2 linked regions of the Homo sapiens genome follow. The protein of the gene in region 1 purifies or fractionates together with the protein of each later gene. This does not show direct contact. Each region holds a gene or a part of one and is shown in the gene's direction. Other genes may lie near its edges. The genes, in order: CBLL1 and ALDH18A1.

What was found.
Region 2: the proteins of CBLL1 (region 1) and ALDH18A1 purify together in Homo sapiens (affinity purification with mass spectrometry; one study listed by BioGRID and IntAct). This does not show direct contact.

The regions. Positions count from the first base shown.
Region 1 is NC_000007.14:107,750,332-107,754,154, forward strand, and holds part of CBLL1 (E3 ubiquitin-protein ligase Hakai), read left to right. Parts: intron 1-2,213; exon of another isoform or gene 2,214-2,286; intron 2,287-3,079; coding exon 3,080-3,180; intron 3,181-3,563; coding exon 3,564-3,647; intron 3,648-3,823. UniProt on the Homo sapiens protein: E3 ubiquitin-protein ligase that mediates ubiquitination of several tyrosine-phosphorylated Src substrates, including CDH1, CTTN and DOK1. Targets CDH1 for endocytosis and degradation.
Region 2 is NC_000010.11:95,632,472-95,636,294, reverse strand, and holds part of ALDH18A1 (delta-1-pyrroline-5-carboxylate synthase), read left to right. Parts: intron 1-2,645; coding exon 2,646-2,804; intron 2,805-3,245; coding exon 3,246-3,336; intron 3,337-3,823. UniProt on the Homo sapiens protein: Bifunctional enzyme that converts glutamate to glutamate 5-semialdehyde, an intermediate in the biosynthesis of proline, ornithine and arginine.

The DNA.
Region 1 (3,823 bases):
GTCTTGCGCTGTCACCCAGGCTGGAGTGCAGTGGCGGGATCTCGGCTCACTGCAAGCTCTGCCTCCCAGGTTCATGCCATTCTCCTGCCTCAGCCTCCCGAGTAGCTGGGACTACAGGTGCCCGCCACCACGCCCAGCTAATTTTTGTATTTTTAGTGGAGACGGGGTTTCACTGTGTTAGCCAGGATGGTCTCGATCTCCTGACCTCATGATCCGCCCGCATCGGCCTCCCAAAGTGCTGGGATTATAGTTATTGCAGAGAATCTTGAAGATTCTATATAGTCAGATATCCGGTCTTTGCTTTTATGACTTCTGGGTTTTGTGACATTATTTGAAAGGCCTTCCCCTATTTCACCAGTATAAAAGAGTTTTTCCATCTTACCCTTGATTACAGGTTAGCAAACTATGTCTGTGGGCCAAATGTAGCCCTGTTTTTATAAACAATTTTATTGGAACACAGCTATGCTCATTCATTTAAGTATTATCTATGGGGGCTTTCACACTATAATGGTAGAGTTGAGTAATTGTGATTGAGACCATATGGTCCACAAAGCGTAAATATTTACTATTTAGCATTTCACAGAAAAAGTTCACTGATACTGCTTTAGAACATTTATGGTTATTAAGGGGAAAAAAGGTGGGGTCTGGCTTTTTTTTTTTTCCCTCGAAACATTGTCCCAACTCTTTTCCTTGCTGAATAGGGATTTTACTGTTATCATATATATGTTAAAGCAGCAGTCCCTAATCTTTTTGGCACCAGGACTGGTTTCGTGGAAGACAGTTTTTCCACAGGTGGAGAGTGATGGCAGGGTGCGGGGAGTGGTTTCGGGATGCAACTGTTGCATTAGTTAGATTCTTGTAAGGAGCACCAACCTAGATCCCTCTCTTGCACGGTTCACAATAGGGTTTGCGTTCCTATGAGAATCTAATGAGGCTGCTGATCTGACGGGAGGCGGAGGCAGAGGTCAAGTGGTAATGCTCCCTAGCCCTTCCCTCACCTCCTGCTGTGTGGCCGCATTCCTAACAGGCCAAGGGTACTGGTCCAAGGCCTGGGAGTTGGGGACCCCTGTATTAAAAGTATTTTTTTGTATTTCTGGACTTTCTGTTCTATTCCAGCAATTTGTCTGTATTTATTTTGTAGAATCAAACTGCTTTAGTTACAACATATGTTATGGTTTCTTTTATCGTAGGGTTCCTCTGCCATCTAAACAAGTATATTTCAAGTCAAAATGTTAGAAATCGTGTTAGTAATAACCTAGGGCTGCTGTTGCACTACCTCTAATTTAGGGTCACTCCTGCTTTGGCTTTGTTTAAAAAAATAGTTTTTTAAAACAACACGTTAGTGTACAAATAATTCTTTAATAGTTCAAACAATGCAGAAAAGCCAAAATCCTTTTCTCTCCTTTCCCTCTCGGATTTTGGAGTAAAATAAGTTTGTTTTTGATTGTTGTTTTCCTAGGCATCAATCAAAATATATATAGTTTAATGATGGGAGTACAGGTGGAACTACTCTGAAAAATGATAATGTGCTCCTAATTTCCTTGGCTGTTATCTCAATAATTTTCTGGTTTGAAAAATTGAGTTTCTGCCAGGTGTGGTGGCTCACGCCTGTTTTCCCAGCACTTTGGGAGGCTGAGACGGGCGGGTCATGAGGTCAGGAGATTGAGACCATCCTGGCTAACACAGTGAAACCTCGTCTCTACTAAAAATACAAAAAATTAGCTGGGTGTGGTGGCGGGTGCCTGTAGTCCCAGCTACTCGGGAGGCCGAGGCAGGAGAATGGCATGAACCTGGGAGGTGGAGCTTGCAGTGAGCGGAGATTGCGCCACTGCACTCCAACCTGGGCGACAGAGTGAGACTCTGTCTCAAAAAAAAAAAAAAAAAAGAAAAATTAATTGAGTTTCCTTATTTTGAATTTTAGATCACACCAGCTTTTCTAAGGTGTAAATGGGTGATATAGGAGCCTAGGAACACTCAGGTGTAACTTATAAGAGCATCCTGACTTTGGATTATACATTCGTATTGGCAGTAATTAAATAGCAGTACACTGAAGTGTCTATCAGCTTCAAAAACTTCTTGCATCATTGTTTGTGTGTTAATGTGAATGTGTCTCTCTGTGTGTGTGTGTGTGTGTCTGTGTCTGTGTATAGGTGCTGTAATTTAGTCATGTGGGTAAAGTTAAAACTTGTGTGCTTGGCTACTCTGTTTACCAGTTCTAGGGCCAAAAGAGTCGTGAGAAGCCTGGCTCCTTGGAGGGATATATTTGTCTGCTCAGCTTTACTTTAGGTAATTGGATTCTACCTAGAATTCCCATCAGACTGTTGATTGGTTTTCTGTTCTTTTGTAGGAGTTGAGAAGATTGCCATCAACTTTTTAATTAGGCCAGAGAAATTGAGCCCCTTTCATCTTCATATATCTTAAGTTTATTGATATTGATAAATGCATTGTAGGAAAGGATACATGAGAATACGATATGGCTCCTGTTGTTTGGGTAATTAATCAGGGAGTGGTTTTAATTGACAGGATGAAATATGAATATGTTAAAGTGTCTAAATCACTCATTTTAGGGCTAAAGAAGAGGATAACTTGTTTGCTAATAAAATCGATAGAATGCTTTATGTTTTCATTATGCTATTGGCAATACAATCAGTCTCTTAGCATACCATTTTTGTAGCTAGACTAGAATAAATGGTGATCAATATCTTAAAAATTTGTGCAACAAGCATGATCATCAGTAAAGTTTTACATTAGAAATAGTTTCATGAATTGATAAGAGCATTTGAATGGGAGTCAAGAGATCTGAGGTCTGTTCCTGGCTTTGCCACTTATCTTCTATATGTTGAGTTATGAGTCTCCATACAGTAATATTCTCAATAATGAAGTAAAAGAGTTGGACTAGATCACCAAGATCACTTCTAACTGATGTTTTAAAGTAATCTTGATTGTCTTATTCTTAGAAAAGCTTTGAAAGGCATCAGATGAGCTTTTTAGTGAAAAGGTCTATTTTGCCATGTATATGTGCTTCCAAAATGAAATTTGAGATTTGGAAAGTTAATGGGCAATACTTTTTTTTTCTCAGAAGGATTTGATTATAATGAAGAAGAACGGTATGACTGTAAAGGGGGTGAGCTGTTTGCAAATCAGCGAAGATTTCCTGGACACCTTTTTTGGGACTTTCAGGTATAATTAAAAATGAAAAATTGTATTATAACAATAAAATATTTTAAGTATTAAATACTTAAAATGTTTTATTGGAGTAATGCACAGTACATTAAGAATATTATGAACTTATAACTATGATTTTCAGCACATACAAATCATTTGTTAATACTCTATTTTCAAGAATAATTTGAAGTAATTTTCAGTAAAATCAATAACTGTTAACACTAAGAAGAAAAACTAATGGTATCACAACTAATGGTGGGGAATAAATGGAGATTATACCAAGAGGCTTCTATTTCTAATTGTTTTAACAACTTTTATAAAATATTGACCAATTCATTGTGTAGATACAATCTTTAGAATTGTGTAAGAAGGTAATTTTAATTATATCATTTCAACAGATAAACATCTTAGGTGAAAAGGATGATACACCAGTTCATTTCTGTGACAAGTGTGGATTGCCTATTAAAATCTATGGGAGAATGGTAAGTATAATTAAATATTGTTTTTGTAAGTAAGCATTTGCATAGAGGTGGGGTTCTGAAATTTAGATAGGTTTATCATTGTTTAATGACTAAGTTTGCAAAATTTTAAATAAGTATGAAATAACTAAGGGAAGTATTGGAATACTATGAATTTAATATGATTATCTTGACAAATT
Region 2 (3,823 bases), on another chromosome or scaffold:
GATGTAAAATAGCTGTTATTTTATATTATGGATATTATTTTACATGTACACTACATGCACAGATGTTATTTTACACAGGTGATATTGTTATATATACATATATTGTTTCAGGTTTTGCTTCTTCATTTCCTGTTACTTTTTTTTGTTTCTCCATCATTTGCCTGTTTGTACCCACAGTGATGTTCTGGTATTACACCAGAGTGTCCTCAAGTCAGTGAGGTAAAACAGAAAGGCACGGACTTGTCCCATTGCCTATGGCTGGGGACCCCACTTTCTGTAGTCTTAGCTTTTTTTCTGTTAGTATAAATACAGTATAAATCTCTATTTATATCACTCTTCTTTATTATTTGGTTTCTCTTCACAGTCCAATGACAACTTTGGTCTTTAATTTTTTTAAAGTGCCTGGAGCCAGGTGAGGAAGCTCAAGTCAGGGAGCTATGGTTTTGCTTTGGTTTGGTTTTTCCCAGGGATGAAACCTTTTGAGAGTTTGTTTTTGTTTTATTTTGTTTTGAATGATGGTAGCATTAAGAGTCCATGCAGCATCAGCCATTGTTTCCATTTACATTGAGTGAAAGAAGAGCCCTGCCCCCTCCAGTTCCCAACAAGCTTCAACCCCTGGGCTCTTTCCTCTCACACCTGTGTCTTCCCCCAAGGCCATCATATCTACAGAAAATATTTGCCCTTTGTACCTTTTCCTGTGGTTCCTTATTTTCTTCAGTAATCCTATATAGAAGACCATTGTCAGTGGCTTTTGAAAATTTCCAGTAGGTGGTTTGCCAGGTTAAAGACTTAAACACTTAAAACAGCTTGTTTTTTCTTCATAGAAGGGAAACTGATTTTCCCTCAACAGATTGCGCTTGTCTAAACACGTACTTTTCCCTCTTGGGACTCTTTATCTCCTACCTTCATGCTGAGATCCCCAGGCCATGTTTGTGAAGCTATTTTGGTGACAGGTATTTTTCCTGGACCTTTAGATCTCCTGCTTGTCTCTCCTACACACGGGTTTATATTAATTGTTTGATCTTTCACCATCGTGACTAGAATCTATATGTTCAGTTTGGACCTAGTCCTGTGTCCAACAGCACTAAGCTTTTCTGAAAAGGAGTTCATGATCTTCCCTTTCAAAAATATGCTCCATTTTATTTTTCCCCAAGACATCAACATTCTTATTCTCCATTCCAGCAGCTAGACTCTGGCATTTCAGAGGTACTCAACAAATTTTTTATCGAGTGAGTGAATTATTTTTCTATATGTATGTTTCCTGTGTTTTATATACCATTAAGGCTACTGTTTTATTGCTATATTCTTCTCAGTTACCATAGCCAGACCCTTAACCATCCTCACTTTGACTGTTTCAGTGCCTGCTTTCTTTACTATTTGCTTCCAGCTTTCCCTACCTCATCCTGCCCTACACAGCAAGAACGCTCTTCCGTAAACATTAGAGAGATTGCATTATTTATTGTTGAGCCTCAAGGTTTGTTGCCATTTAGTTTCTTGCTATCTCCATTCACCCATTTATCTTTTTCTCCTAAACATTGCATAAAATTCTGATTTAAGCTAGAAAGCAGAGCTGTTTACCAGCCCACACACCAGCTCTCCATTCTACCTTTGAGCACCTTATGCTCATCTCCTCCCTTGAACCAAGTTGTGTTCTGCCCCCCTTTCAGCTTGTGACCAAAGACTAACTTCCATAAATTTCTCAGACTAACCCCACATGCTCACACACAATCTTAGTTAACTCCAGTAATAGTCTGCTTTAGAGCAAGAGCAGTGACAACACAGCCCTATTCCATTTTGTCTAATACACTTTCACTCACTCACCAAATATTTAAGGGCCTACTATGGCCAGGCCCTGAATCAGATCCTAGAATACAGAGATATTTTAGAAATTGCTGGGGCACAGCGGTGTGCATCTTTAGTCCCAGTTACTCAGGAGGCTGAGGTGGGAGGATCACTTGAGAGTAGGAGTTCAAGTCCAGCGTGGACAACAGAGTAAGACCCTCTCTATAAAAAAAGAAAAGAAATTAATGGATAATCACTGATTCCCCCAGTATCCCTCTAAAATAGATACATTAATTTTCTTAATTTTGTAAATGGATGAGATTTTGGAATTTGGTAGCTCTTTGAGGATTAAAGTACTTTTGCAAGAAGTCTTGAACATTCTTAAATAAATCTTTCAGATTATTGTAATTTTTTTTATCTCTACAAAAATTGGGGCCAGGTGCAGTGGATCACACCTGTAATCCCATCACTTGAGGCCAGGAGTTTGAGACCAGCCTGGCCAACATGGCGAAACCCTGTCTCTACTAAAAATACAAAAATTAGCTGCGTGTGCCTGTAATCCTAGCTACTTGGAAAGCTGAGGCATGAGAACTGCTTGAACCCAGGAGGTGGAGGTTGCAGTGAGCAGACATTATGCCACTGCATTACGGCCTGAGCGACAGAATGAGACCCTGTCTCAAAAAAAAAAAAAAAAAAAAAAGAATTGGATAGCACCCAGATATGTGTATTTCATTCTAATCTTCTAATCTGTGTGGGGCCCCAGAAACCTAAAGTTTAACTCCCCTGCTCTTAGCGTCTTTTGTATACTGGGAAGTTTAGCGTTTTTCTCCCTCATGCATTTTCCATCTATTTAATCCTTTTAGATTTTGGTGACCAATTTGGATTTCCATGATGAGCAGAAGCGCCGGAACCTCAATGGAACACTTCATGAACTCCTTAGAATGAACATTGTCCCCATTGTCAACACAAATGATGCTGTTGTCCCCCCAGCTGAGCCCAACAGTGACCTGCAGGGGGTAAATGTGGGTAAAGTATTTCTAAGGGTTTAGCATGCTGGAGACACTAACACCATGCTATGCTGCATGCACTAACACCAGAAGTTTGGCATAAACAAGATGGAAAAGTTGTGAGAGAAACTTGTCATGGAGCAGTGACTGCATAAGCTCTTCTGAACTCGTGGTTGCATTCAACAGGGTGAGGTGCTATAGTCACTGAAGATGGTGCGATGAGCATGGCTTGTATATTTCAGTGGCTAGAAGACTGCATGTTTGGAAAAAGGATTGCCAGTAGACAGTGTGTTCTGCAGACAGAAGGGGCCTGCAAGAGCCGTCATCTACATATTTGGGTTCATTGGTTTTGCCTGATCCTAGCTTGGTTTTGCCTGAGCTTGGCTGTGTTCTTCCATGAATTTCTTTTTGGACTGCTTAGCTCACTCACTTATGACTTTTTAATCTGCATTCTAGGTTATTAGTGTTAAAGATAATGATAGCCTGGCTGCCCGACTGGCTGTGGAAATGAAAACTGATCTCTTGATTGTTCTTTCAGATGTAGAAGGTACAAAGTAATGCTTTTTTCCTTTATCTGCCCTTTGTTTTAAATGCTACATATGTGAGCACATGAGTTTCCCTCTTTCTTTGAGTCCCTCTGATGTTTTTTTGCTATAGATCATTAGCCATATGTTCTGACAAAGGGCTTTTATGACTCAAAACAGGGTGGGTGAGTCTAAGAGATGTCATTTGAATCCTGAAATGTTACTTCCAGGTGCTTTCAGTTGTTTTCCTTAAATAACAGCTTTATGGAGATGTAATTCACATACCATACAATTCACTTATTTGAAGTTTACAATTCTGTCCTGGCGTGGTGGCTCACACCTATAATCCCAACACTTTGGGAGGCCAAAGCGGGAGGATCACTTGAGCCCAGGAATTCAAGATCAACCTGGGTAATATAGTGAGTCCCTGTTTCTACAAAAAATAGAAAAGTCAGCTGGACATGGTGGTATGCGCCTGCGGTTCCAGCTACTCGGGGCTGAAGCAGAAGG